Linked DNA regions of Homo sapiens. The protein of the gene in region 1 purifies or fractionates together with the protein of each later gene. This does not show direct contact. Each region holds a gene or a part of one and is shown on either strand. Other genes may lie near its edges.

Region 1 (7,027 bases):
CTTTTGACATAATTTTTATTGTTTTTTGCATAGGAATGACATATTTTAAAATCAGGAAAAAAAACTGAGATAAAAACACCATAATATTAGGTTTTCTAGAGAAAAGAAAAAGCTTACAACTAAGCCCCCAAATGTGCGGGGAGGCCAGGGGTCTCTTCTCAAAGGGGCCCTTCCACCTAGGAAATGTCTGCCACAGAGCCAGCAGCCCTGGAGATCAGCTCACCCGACATGCCGGGGGACAGCACCATGAAGAAAGAGACAGCTAAGACAAAGCACAGTTCTGACATTTTTATTCACTGATCATAAATATAGTCTCATGAGCATTAAGGTGATCATGAATGATGTACTAGCACCTGGAACATGACCATCATGGAGCACTCACTGATTCCCCATCACTGGCCAAAGAAGTCGGGGCATCTTCCTTTCACCAAGTGTTCAACTTTGGAGGGACCCTCCTTCTGGTGCAGCAATTTTATTCTTGGCTTGTTCTCAACAATTAAAAAATCATAAAAGACTGAGTGTTTGCAATAAAATATCAAAGAGGATAAGAAGATTTTCTGTTCTTCTTAAAGTCTAAAGTAAAAAGGGGAGGTAGGGAAGAAGGAAAGGAAAGGGGAAAGATGTCAGGGATCTGCCACGTTTCTTCCTTCCTCCAGAGCATTTTACAAAAACAAAACCGGGGAGGTATTTATTAATGCTGTTTGGAGATGGGTTGCGTCTCTCTGATGAGCCACTCGAGAGCTTCCTGGCGGCCCTGTTTCTGCAATTCCTTCCCAATCACATCCCTGCAGGTCAGGTGGTAATTGTTGAGCCAGTCGCACTGCAGGGAAGAGAAGGACAGACACGGTATTCACCACTACATCTTTAACAACTGGCTACACAGGTCAACAGCAAAGGCCCCCATGTGCTAAGATCACAAGCTGAGAGAAAAGGTGTGCAACACCCTTTCTCCTTACTCACAGGTAAGTATTTTCCTTGTGTTCTGTTTCCCCGGAAATACATAGGACCAGACTTCATGGCTTCTGGTGAAAAGGCTCCCAGAACAGTTTACTATTATAGACAGCAGTCTCTAAGCCAGTAGCTCCTGCTCCCACCTGTGTGGCTTCATTCCCTTAAACCTGAGCCATCCTGGGAGGTGGTAAGTGGGGGAATAGCCCCGGACTCTGTGAGAACTCCTGCTGAGAGAGACACTCGAAGCTGTCCTGCCAACACACTGGGCTACATATCCTATATCCACTGAAAAAGCTGAATAAAAAACTAGGATCAGCCAAGCCCATGGGTGTCTTTTGAGTGTAGCTGCCTAGATGAACCCAAAACCTGCGGTGGTTAAAGACTGTGGTGCAGCAGAATGGCGCTGGGAGTAAACTTAGTTTTCAGACTCTCAACTCAACATGCCACAAGAGCAGGAGACAAAAAAGAGAGTGAAAGGAAGGACCTGCTGGCAGGACTTGGTGCCTGGGCAGGGGCTGATCCACTAGACATGATGGCAAAAGCTCTGAGGCAGGAAAAAGGGTGAACTCTCCTCCTTGGTTGTATACGGGAAAAGGTGAAGTCTGGAGTGAAGCAGGTTTTACCAAGAGGACAACAAGCCACTCTCATCACTGTCTATGGGGGTAGCTGTCTGGAAGCTGATGAGACTGATAGTGCCATGGCTGTGCTTGTCATAAATGAGTCAAAGGCCATTTTGGAGGGCAGCGATGTTACAGAAGTACTGCTTTCAGGGACTACAATCCAGCCAGGTACCAAAGCCCAGCTGGGGTCAGGATGGGCACACAAACCCATTAATTACAAGGGACTGAGGGCAGACAGATAGGGTGGTGTTACCAACTGGCTGTGACCCAGCCAGGGTTCCAATCCCTACTGAGAAGAGCCTAGTAGCCCCTTCTGGGAGTCAGGGAAGTGATGGGGGCAGGGGAGGATGTCAAAAGCAGGCAAACTGCTATGTGTCCACAGCAAGGCCAGCAGGGCTACAAAGCAGCCTACTGTCCAAAGCAGCTCAACAGTAAGGCAACGGCAGCATCCTGGTGTAAGCCTGGGGCCACAGCCAAACGCCCATGGCCCTTTTGGTTGGAAGTAGGGAGGGAAAAGTGGGAGTGTGGACAGCCTCGGTGGAGCCTGAGGAGCAGCACAAGGCCCTGACAGTCTGCAGCTGGCCATATTCATATCTGACCAAGGTCCTTTGCTGCCATCTGGTGATAAGTGATGACGATGCAGACCCAAACCAAAAACTCCCTAAAGTGACTCCAAAATAAAGGCTAAATAGTAAAGGGCAAATGACCAGATATTTTAAAAGCCAGATATTTTAAGAAGACATTATCTGCCCTACAAAGAGTAACTGGCCGAAAGAATAGTTCAATCATGTGGGCATGCAAGGTGCAGCAATGAAACACTGGGTAACACAGATCCCTGGTCTATGTCCAATGTCACGGGAGTAGACTGATTCTCCTTCGAGGAAAAATGGCCTGGCTTAAACTTCCTCATATACTACTTCCCTGGATAAAGGGGAATGTCATATGGGAGAAATGCCTCCTGATGGGTACACTTTATGTGGACAGGAAGGACTGCATGACCTAGAATTACTTGGCAGGAATCCATAGCCTTGGACTTCCAAGAGTGCGAAATGACTTATTACTGGAAAGCCCCTTGCTAAGTCCCTGGAAGCTGTGCCCAAGGGCCATTACAAGAGACACTGGTTCCTATGGGGCAGAGGGATTCTAAGCAGGGTGGGTCCCATGCCCACCTATGTGTTTTCATTTCCTCTCAGCTAAGGCAACACTTACAGGGGCTGGACAAGAGCCCCTGGACACTGGAAGGACTCTTCCTGCTGAAGAGACACACCAGACATTGTGCTGATAGGCTGAGTTTCCTTTTCCATATCCATCTACAAGCTGCATAACCCACCCGGTATCAGCAAGGCCCATGTGGGTCCTGTGAGTGGGAATGTTTAGCTGAACCAAGGGCACGGATGGTTAAGCAGAGGCGCTCAAGCACAGAGGAAAGCTAAGCAGGAAGTGGATGGACTTTCTCATCACCCACCTGTGAACTGGAACAGGCAGAAGAGGCTTCTAGCTGGGAGAATCCCATTCCACAGCTCCTGTGGAAGGGAAGGTCCTTAACCCCCAAAGACCCTTTCCTTTACAGTGTCAAGAACGAGGCCCAAGTGGGCGCCAGTGAGGAAATGTTCCTGCCTTGAGAGGCACTCAAAGGCCATTGGCTGCCTCAGATAACAAAATATTCTTATTCCGAGAGTAACCCACCGTGCTTACCCTGCCTTCGGCTCCCACCAGTCATTTGCTTTTCATTGGAACTTCTGACCCCTGCCTTGCTCTGGAATTTGTGTCCTCCTGGCTTCCAGCTTCCTGGTTTGGGAACTGTTTTGTCTGTCTAGTGCTAACAGTTCCTACCCCATTTCTGACCCTTGTTTCTGCTCTGACCTTGAACATCTGTGTGATTCTTCAGGCCTTTCTCATGTCCCCAGGACTGCCATCTGACCTGGCCTTACCAGTCCAGGGTCTGAAGGAGTTAAGACCCATAACCCTCTGAGCTGGGCAAGTAAGCACTGTTGTGCCCCAGGCTTTGTGAAGGGTTTCACTGCCCCAGAGTGACCACAGTAGTAACCGAGAAGGGCTGGTACTATCTTTCTCCTTGTCTGTGTGAAAACAGGACATACGATAATAGATTTTGCTTTCCATTTCCTTAATGTTTCATGTAACACAAGAAAACAATCTGGTATGTACAGTGGCCAAGAGGCCCCACCATCCATCTGGCTTTTTGTAGGGACACACATAGGCTCATATTTGCTAAACACGCCTCACTGCAGCTATGGAGGAATAGTACAGCCAAACAATGGCATACGAGTTCCACCCACAAACCCTACAGCCCCAGAATGGCTGCGGGAAACAGGACTATCTCCACCTGGAGGCCCAACAAATACAGGAAAAGCTCAGGAGTCCTCAGAAAACCTAGGGCTTTCAGACTCAACTGGCCTAGACCTCTAAATTTAAAAATTACAAAGTGAGACTGGATTAGAGAATTTAGGATTTAGAGGATGGATTAGAACTATTTAAGGTAGTCTCCACCTCCCCTAGTAACATGCCTGCCCACCAAGACTTCCCCATTACCTCTTTGTCTGTAAGAGAATCCACATCTATCATTTTGGTCTGAATTGGAACCAATGTTAGAGGTTCAAAGGTCAGGCTTCCCCGGTTATTAAAATTATACTGCGGGAGAAAGAAGAAAACAGATGCTTTTACTCCTCTTTACTATGCTGAAGCACCATGAGGTCATTCCACCAGCATGCCATCCCTCAGAGCCAGGGGTAACTGGGAGCCAAGAAGTGGTGAGCTGGTCACCACTTTTCACAGACACACAAGGAACCTGATGCCATTTTCCAAGAGCTCCTCCACTGGGCAAACAATGGCCTGTGCCATCAGGAAAGGCCAAACAAAGGGTGCTGAGGGGCTCCCAGCAACAGGTCCCAAGGCTAATGTCTACTGTGATAGGAAACAGGGGCAGGATATGGGGGTATCTGGGCTTAGGGGCATCTCTGGTTTTGGTTCTCCAGGATGCAGGGGTGTAAGTCCTCAAAATCATTTTTATAACAGTCAACTGTGTGGTCTGCCTTGACCCAGCCAGGCCCATCAGGCGACAACACATCTATCCACTGGAGCACACAAGAACATGTCGGGTTTCTGTTCATGGCAGCTTTTGGGAATAAGATGGGAGGTCACTTCCAAGAATAGTGACTTCCATGCCAAAGCAGAGAGCAGATCCCCGCAGTTAACCTCCTTGTAGACACAGGAAGCTACTTCCCTCCAATTGTTCAATTCCACCAATGGAGGAGGCACAAACAGGTCTTTTAGGTAAAGCCTAGAGCCTAAAACCCTGCAACCTTGGTAACACTGATGGGGGAAGAGGGTGAAACACCTGTCTTGTATTGCCTTTGAGGCTGACCCATGGATAACTCAGGGTTCCTCAACTTTACCTAATAAAAGTCACCTGGGGAGTGTGACAAAATTACAGCTTCCAGGCCCCCCACCCTGGAAATTCTAGGGTCTGGGAGGGGCCCTGGAAATTAGCGCCTTGAATAGGCACCCCTAGCAGAAGAGACAACAGGCCGCCTATAGTAAACTCAGAGCCCCAAATCATGTGAAGCAAGCATCAGCCTGAGGGTCTGTGAATCCCAGTTCTAGATCCCAGTTCATTAAGGATTTTCTTTCTGGCTTTGCAGGGAAGGAGTGTGGTTTCCAGGAAAGTCCCTGATATCTGGAGAAGAAGGCTCCATGTTGGCCCCAGAATGGCATACTCTTGGCTCCAAAGACATTAAGTCTTCATCTTCCCACACTAAGAAACAGGAAAATTTTTAAGCTTTGCGCAGTGGCAGTATTGTAGCCAATGAGGTCTATCCGAGGCGTGATTATTGCTAATAGAAACAGGAAAATTTTTTTAATAAATCCTCACCTTGGTCTTCACAGGAACCACAAGGACAACATTCTCAATGCGAATTCCAAAAGCCCCATCTTCATAGTACCCGGGCTCTAAAACAAACCAAATCCCAAAAATGAGAAGCAGCCCACGATGAAGATGTCTACAGAGAGAAACTTTCACTCCTTGGATGACTGCCCTACTCCAAAGGAGAAGAAACGGGTGAAGAGCCCACTCTATCTGGTGTAAGAGCCTAGAGATGCCACCTTCTCTCATATGGCCACTTTTTTATAGGCACTTGAGGTGCAGAAAGCTAGACTCTGAAGTCCCTGCACACTGGCTACAGGGTAAGGAGTAAAGTAACAGTGGATCCACTAAATAAATCATGGTTCACATCCGTAAGACACAATAATGAAGGCATTAAAATATATTTACAAAGACTTGGCAATGACCTGAGAAAAGGCAATGTATCAAGTAAGAAAGCAGAACATAAGACAAGATGCCCAGTAAGATCTCAATGATTTAAAAAAAAAATGCTATCTACATACCTGAAAGACCAAAAGCTAATACAGTAAAACACTAAGTCATGTTTCCCCTGAGTGGTTAGATTGCAAATGATTTTCATTTTCTTTTTACACAGTTCCCATCTCATTTTTTCTAAAATGAACATGTATCAGTTCTATAATCAGAAAAGTTTGTTGGAAGGGAAAAGTATTGCCAATTTACTTTAAACTAATTAAAAAATACAAAACAACGAATAGCTTTCAAAAAGGCTCAAGGATCCACGCATGCCCTCTATGTGAGGGACACTTACCATCAGTGACAATCATGCCTGCCTCCAAGGGCTCATCAGAGAATGTTTTGTAACTGATGCCGCAAGGACCCTCATGGACATTCAAAAAAGACCCAACACCATGTCCAGTCCCGTGCAAGTAATCTAGGCCTGAATCCCATAAAGCTGAACGGGCAAAGGAGTCAAGAAGGTGACCTGAAAGACATAAAGAGCCACTTAATTGTATTTGTACAGCGCTTTAGAGATTAAATTTATTATGTGTGGCTCCAGAACGTGAAACAGAAACCAATAGGTAAGTTACTGGAGGGTTCAGATTTCAGCACAGCACAAGGAAGAACTTTCTAACAATCAGAGCTCCTGAGAAACCATCAGAGCTCAGTCTGAAGCTAGGCGATCATCCATTCAGGATGCTGGTGAGCGGGGATAGACACCTACAGCACACAGAGGCCGTATCAGACATGGACGTTCCCTTGCCAGCTCTGCGACCCTAAGGTTTCAGAATTACAAAGATGAGACTCTAACCAGACTGCAAGCAGACAGGCAGGCATGACAGATGAGGAAACTGAGGCCTAGGGAGATGAGTACATGTCTAATCTACCCAAAAGCAAGGCAGCCCAGGTCTTGTCAATGCCCAGTCCAATGCTCCACCCACCAGGCCTCAAGCAAAGTAGTACATAGCTGAAGTCAGGGTCCCAGTAAAATAAATCCTAAGAATCCCGAAAGGAAGCACTGGCCCAGTACTAAAGGGCAGACAGGAGGCTGCACCAACTTCCACTCAGGCCCTGTGACCTTCATATCTGGTTTGTCCTC
Region 2 (7,027 bases), on another chromosome or scaffold:
CTAATGATAGGCAGAATCAGTGGAGAAAGTATGAAGGTGGGTCCTGGTGGCGGGGAGAGAGCGGTTGAATGGAATGTGAGGTATTTGGGTCTTTAAAATGAATATGTTTAGCTGGCATGGTGGCTCACACCTATAATCACAGCAGTTTGGAAGGTTGAGGTGGAAAGATCACTTGAGCCCAGGAGTTCAAGACCAGCCTGGGCAACAGAGTCAGACCCCATCTCTACAAAAAATACAAAAAATTAGCAAAGCACGGTGGCACAAGCCTGTAGTCCTAGCTACGTGGAAGGCTAAGCTGGGAGGATGGCTTGGGCCTGGGAGATAGGCTGCAGTGAGCCATGATTGTAACACTGCACTCCAGCCTGGGCAACAGAGCAAGACCCTGTCCCAAAATTAATTAATTAATTAAAATGAATATGCTTGGCCATTTGCTGAATAAATACCTATTGTCTACTAACACCAAGTTCTTACTATAGTAAGTCTTGGATTTATATAAATGAAAAAATAGAATCCCAATGCTCAAAAAGGTTATCAGCCAGGGAAAGGTCAAACAGATGTGGTAGCTGCTATAATGGGTATGCACAAGGCTCAATAAGCATTTGAGAAAGAAGTACCTAAGTCTGCTGAAGAACATCAGATAAGACAAGGCTTGAGCTGACCACAGAAAGAACAGCTAGAGATGGGAAGGAGAATTTCAGAAAGGGGACCTGCATGTACAAAAAGTACTGAGACATGAAATAATAACATATATTCAGGGAACTGCCTATAATCTTACATATAAGCACAGGGCTACATTAATGATGAAAGAAGAAATAACAGGATAACCCAGTAATGACAGTGACTTAACTGCCTGGAGAGTCACCAGCCACAGGCCAAATTCTTTTCTGCCTTGGGACCATTACACACCCTCTTCCCTTACCTGGAGTATTCTCCCGGCTAATGTTCACTTGTCCTTCAGATTTCAGTACACATGTCACTTCCACAGAGGGGCCTTTCTTACCATTCCATACCACAATAGATTTATCTTGGTATTCTCTCTCATAGCACTCCATTACGAATTAACGGATTTGTAACTATCTTCATTTATGTTTCCACTTGACTGTAGGCTCCATGGTGGTGGAAATATCTGCTTTGTTCATCACCACATCTCTATTGCTTAGAAAAGTACCTAGCACACAGCAGGTGCTCATTAACCATTTTCCGGATAAAACTGAAGCTAGAAGGTATTAATACCTTTGCTGGAGAAAAGGCTCTGAGCCAAAGTGTATTCTGATGGGGTTATCAGCAACAGACTTAAAAAAAAGACTTTTAGTAAAGGAAAGCTGTAGAAATAACCTGACTTATGACAACTTGATGTCACAACAAATTGAGAAGCACATCATTATTATTTGACATTACTACACAGTGATATGTGTAATTTATGGAAAAACTGACTTGCAACATTTCTTCAAATTTCAAAATTAGTTACCAACAGTCACACTGGACACAACACAGGCAGTAAACTGAAATATCATTTTAGCATGGCACAGTGGAGAGAGTAGGAATTAGGAGACCAGAACTCTAGTGCCAATACAATAGCATATTTTAGGGCAGTAGTTCTTTCCTAGGGGACGTTTGGGAATTTGTGAGAGTACTTTTTCTTGTCACATCAATAAGCAACCAATATCAACAGTTAGTGAATAAGGACCAGAACGACAGATCTGGGATGCACAGGACAATCCTATACAACAAAGTCCAGTCCTGCATTCCACAAAACTTGCAGTATCTTACCAGGCATTCACAGAGGTGAAAAAGCCTACTTATAATGATCTGACTTTAGAAACTATTTCCATTTTACATAGATAATAAAAAAAAAATCACTCAATTATCCAGGAAGTCAACTATTTTCCAAATCAAGGAAAGATTATACTTTTTCTTATTTAGAACTTCACTAAGAGTTGTTCATCATTTTGGAAAATTGTGTTAAGAGTCACTGATTGATACCTTACATCTCTGTCAGCCTACATTTTTTGCTGTCACATTTACGGTGACTCAATATGCAAATATAAGTACCTGACTGCTTCATTATGTCTTTGGTGCAGTCATATTATGCATTTAAGTATTAAAATATATTTTATTCTAAACCAATTTCCTTTAATTTTATAGTTAAAATATGTTGATTGCTGCAAAGTAGGTGGATTAAATCATCTACAAATTTCACTACAGGATAGTAATATCTATGAACTAATACTTCAGCTTAAAGTAGTTGGTTAAAAAAATGCTCTTCAGTTTAAGACTTACTATGTATTCTTGTACACACATATTTATACACATATCCTTTCAAGCAACTCCATCCACAAAACCACATGTGCTTTCCAAATACCGACCCACTTATAGACATGATATATATACCCCCTTGGATACAAATGCACACCCAGGTATGCAAACTCATAATGAACATTTAGCATAGTCAATTCAACAGGTGGTAGACAAGTGGAAAGATACAAGACTAGGTGAACTGAAGAGAGAATAAATCTAAACAAAAAAAAGTGAATTTAGAGTTATAAGTGAGCAAAGAAGTAAAGCCTATGAAAACAACTATCTAATGCTAGAATAATGATATATATTAGATGATACAAAGAAAACTTTGCAATTAGTTTCATGACCTTAAGCTATCTTTTTAGGCCTTATCTATAAAATATGGAGGCTACAAAAAATGATTCTCTAAAAATTCACTACAATTTCAAAATCCTTTGATTCCACCGAAAAAACTAATTTTATTTTTAGATAAGAAAAATAAAATTTTTTATTTATCTAAAAATAAAATTATTTTGTCTCCCAAGCTGGGGTGCAGTGGCACCATCATAGCTCACTGTAGCCTTGACCTCCTGGGCTCAAGCAATCCTCCTGCTTCTGCCTCCCAAGTAGCTAAAATTTGACTTTAAAACAAATCTGTTGCTGCTTTTGTATTATTTTCATTCTTTAAATCACAGCATCCACAATCATTATGCCCCAAGAACAATGTTTGATGTTAGGGTCTCTGTCTTTGACAGATCTCATGACAAATGCTATAATTGAGAGGTTTTTTGTTTGTTTTGTTTGTTTGTTTGTTTGTTTTGAGACGGAGTCTCGCTTGTTGCCCAGGCTGGAGTGCAGTGGCACGATCTCGGCTCACTGCAAGCTCTGCCTTCCGGGTTCACGCCATTCTCCTGCCTCAGCCTCCCGGGTAGCTGGGACTACAGGCGCCCGCCACTGCGCCCAGCTAATTTTTTGTATTTTTAGTAGAGACGGGGTTTCACCATGGTCTCGATCTCCTGACCTCGTGATCCGCCCGCCTCGGCCTCCCAAAGTGCTGGGATTACAGGCATGGGCCACCGCGCCCGGCCTAATTGAGAGGTTTTTAAAAAGGAGTATAGAAAAGAGATATTTAACTCTGTGTAACGGAGTTGTGAAGGGCCTTGTAGAAAAGGTGGTATTTTAGCTGGGTCTTTGGGTCTTAAAGAATGAGGCATTTAGTAAAAAGTTTCAGTTGAGTTATTTCTGGAAAGTATTAGAGACCCAATTATAATGCAGTGGTAAAGAAATATGAATAACCATACTTGTTATGTGTGTTTTCTACTTCTTTTATTTTATTTTATTTTTTTTTTTTGAGACGGAGTCTTGCTCTGTCGCCCAGGCTGGAGGGCTGGAGTGCAGTGGTGCGATCTCAGCTCACTGCAAGCTCCGCCTCCCGGGTTCACGCTTCTCCTGCCTCAGCCTCCCGAGTAGCTGGGACTACAGGTGCCCGCCACCAGGCTGAAAATTGAAGTGGTAGTTGAATGATGCACTGAAATCATAACACATGGATCATTTTAAAAAATGACATCCACCTTGCCGTCTGCAGATCCTATCAACATCATTTTTAATCCAAAATGTGAAAATTAAGCCACAGTCTTCATTAGAGTTAAATAATAAACAAATAAACTACAAGGTGGCCAGGCAGGTCTATTAAAAATGCTTTGCTAAAATAAAGCCTTAAGAATACACAAATATTTTGTGAATTTTATAATGGATATTCAATAAGATACACTCTAGATTCAAGTGAAATTGTACATGACATCATGTTAAAGCTCAGTGTTATTCTTTTTTTTTTTTTTTTTTTTTTGCTCTGTCGCCCAGGCTGGAGTGCAGTGGCGTGATCCTGGCTCACTGCAAGCTCCGCCTCTTGGGTTCACGCTACTCTCCTGCCTCAGCCTCCCGAGTAGCTGGGACTACAGGCGCCCGCCACCATGCCCAGCTAACTTTTTGTGTTTTTAGTAGAGACGGGGTTTCACTGTGTTAGCCAGGATGGTCTCGGTCTCCTGACCTGGCGATCCAGCCCGCCTCAGCCTCTCAAAGTGCTGGGATTACAGGCGTGAGCCACCGCGCCCGGCCAGGCTCAGTGTTATTCAAAGTGAGTCATATTTTTGTCTGATGTTAAGAATGCAAGAAAAATATTAATTTTAAATAAAAATAATACTCACAATCTTCACACTCAGGCTTGAAACTCCATGATCATGAAGTTCATCCTCAAAAAGGAGAACTTCTTCAAAAAACTTAATCTGTTCTCTGGCTTTCAATTTTTCTGTATCTATATGATCTGTTGTAGGTACAACCTGAAAGAAAAAATTTTAAAGAGGAGCACATTAAAAAAAAAGTTGAGGAGCTACAGAGACACAGGAAAGCAGTCTTTTCTTTTCTTTTTCAATCAGTCTTTTCTACATAGCCAGAGCACACAGTTCTAAATTTGGGTGTCATTAGTAGATATAAAAGATCAGAATATGGCTTGATTCTGAAAACTGAAGACATTACAGATGCCCAATATTATAGCTTCACAAAAAAAGCAGTAAAAATTTATCATTTTTCATGCAAGTCATATTAAAATCAACTTCTGTTGTGACTATGAGAAAATTAATCAACTAAACATCAGTCAGTGTGATGAACGACTGCTATCATAGAAGGTCATAGAACATTTGTGCTGTGAAAGCCACTTTTAGGACATTCATATGGAACTTAAAAAATATTTTTCCATTAGAATGTTAGATATTTGCTCAACCTAACTCCCCAAAACCTACAACAAAATAAAGTGCTTTAAATAATGAGGTAAACAAGAACTTGTAGAGAAATTCTGAGGGAAACTCTTAGCATTGCAAAGAGCTTTGAATGAAGTTGGCAATTTTTCAAGGTATTATTTTGTAGCTCTAAGACATGCACACACGTAATCCAACAAAAGCATCAACAGTCCCAAGGCAGATCATATCAGGAGCTCATTAAACTCAAGTGTCTCCTGAGCAGCACCCAAGTATGAATTGTGATACTATTTTCTACCACACCTAATTTCACTACAAAATGCTCAGCTGTTTTACTCCTTGACAGGTTTACCATAAACAAACACAACAATGCTTGTCAAACCATAGATATTTAGTAAATGTAGCTTTACTTAAGCGTCATGATTAGGTGATTTGTTTTGACTCATGGACAAAATTAGCAGATGGAGAGTAATTTGAGATAACTAGATAAGAATCAGAAGAAAATTACAAAGGATGTTGTTTACAAGACTGCACAGATTTTGGGAGGAAATCTAAGGGAACGTTAAGTAATGTAGGGGGAAAAGATGCCATGAAAAGAAAGTGGCAGTTTGTATATGATTTCCAGGAGGTAAAAAAATGTCCATAATTCTTCCATGGTCACTTAGAGATAACACTTAGCCCTAAGCAGTTTTACTTCCAACTGTGTACGGAGCAGGTATAAGGCCACTCTTGAGGTGAAAACTGGGAGGGGAAGGGAGTTGGAGTGTAGGGGCAGGGCATATAACCAGTCCCCTGCATCACACATTAAGTTTATGATCTAGTTAAACAAAAGTTGGTCTGCCAACGAGGACTGCCTAAGGTTACACAACTGAAATTAGTGTTAAATACACACACTTGTAAATTTCGTCCTTTTTATTTGATTTTAGTTCAGAGGAACACATTTTTAACATCCTCCTTATAGATACTCCTGAATCCCCCAAAATTAATCATTATCTGAATTTTCTCATTAGTAAATTGCTTCATTAATGTTTCACATATGCCTTCAGTAAGTGATTGGTCAAAATGAATCTGTCAGTTTTTCCATTTACGTACTTGTTCTTATAAAATGAAAGACAAAGTCAAAAAACAAAGCATGAGTTAGAGATATCATATTTAACTTATTTATGCTATTGTCTCCATTTGCAAGGCTAAATATGTCTAAAACTTTATACTTTTCAGCTCTCTTCCTCAACTCCACATATCTCTCTCTGAACCCAGGGATCTAAAAAATACAACAAAAAAAAAATAACCAGCTAAATATAAAACATATGGGCTGGGCGCGGTGGCTTATGCCTATAATCCCAGCACTTTGGGAGGCAAGGCGGCCGGATCACTTGAGGTCAGGAGTTTGAGACCAGCCTAGCCAATATGGTGAAACCCCATCTCTACTAAAAATACAAAAACTAGCTGATCGTGGTGGCAGGCACCTGTAATCCCAGCTACTCAGGAGGCTGAGGCAGGAGAATCGCTTGAACCCGCGGGGCAGAGGTTGCAGTGAGCTGAGATCACACCATTGCACTCCAGCCTGGGCGACAAGAATGAAACTCTATCTCAAAAAAATAAAAAACATATGGAACAGTATTGGCAGAATAAGTAATCTAGACAAACCTTCTTGATGAAGACAATTTAAAAAGCTGGCTAAAAAAACCCAAAAACTTCCTAAAAGCATCAAATGGCCAAGGCAGTATGGAGTTACTGGGCTGAGATCTGGAAAGACTGGAGCCGAGAAAAGTAAGTCTGTACTTGGCTGGCTTTTGCCCTGAGGCATAGCACTGGCTGATCCAGAGAAGAAGCTGGGCTCTGCTAGCTTTTGGTGCCATCACTGCTCAGTGCTCACTAAGGACAAGGACCCTGGAGAATTTCCTGCTTCCTCCCAAATCAGAGATGACACCCTAAAGAGCTATAGTGATTTCAGAACTTTTTTTTTTTTTTCTTGAGACAGAGTCTCGCTCTGTTGCCCA

Evidence for each region.
Region 2: the proteins of XPNPEP1 (region 1) and TIPRL fractionate together in Homo sapiens (co-fractionation; 2 studies listed by BioGRID). This does not show direct contact.

Annotation. Positions count from the first base shown.
Region 1 is NC_000010.11:109,864,493-109,871,519, forward strand, and holds the end of XPNPEP1 (xaa-Pro aminopeptidase 1), read right to left. Parts: intron 6,413-7,027; coding exon 6,239-6,412; intron 5,538-6,238; coding exon 5,461-5,537; intron 4,221-5,460; coding exon 4,122-4,220; intron 3,095-4,121; coding exon of another isoform or gene 3,037-3,094; intron 821-3,036; coding exon 692-820; coding exon of another isoform or gene 663-691; 3' UTR 274-662; downstream 1-273. UniProt on the Homo sapiens protein: Metalloaminopeptidase that catalyzes the removal of a penultimate prolyl residue from the N-termini of peptides, such as Arg-Pro-Pro. Contributes to the degradation of bradykinin.
Region 2 is NC_000001.11:168,188,955-168,195,981, reverse strand, and holds part of TIPRL (TIP41-like protein), read right to left. Parts: intron 4,614-7,027; coding exon 4,482-4,613; intron 3,775-4,481; coding exon of another isoform or gene 3,754-3,774; exon of another isoform or gene 3,587-3,753; intron 1-3,586. UniProt on the Homo sapiens protein: May be a allosteric regulator of serine/threonine-protein phosphatase 2A (PP2A). Isoform 1 inhibits catalytic activity of the PP2A(D) core complex in vitro. The PP2A(C):TIPRL complex does not show phosphatase activity.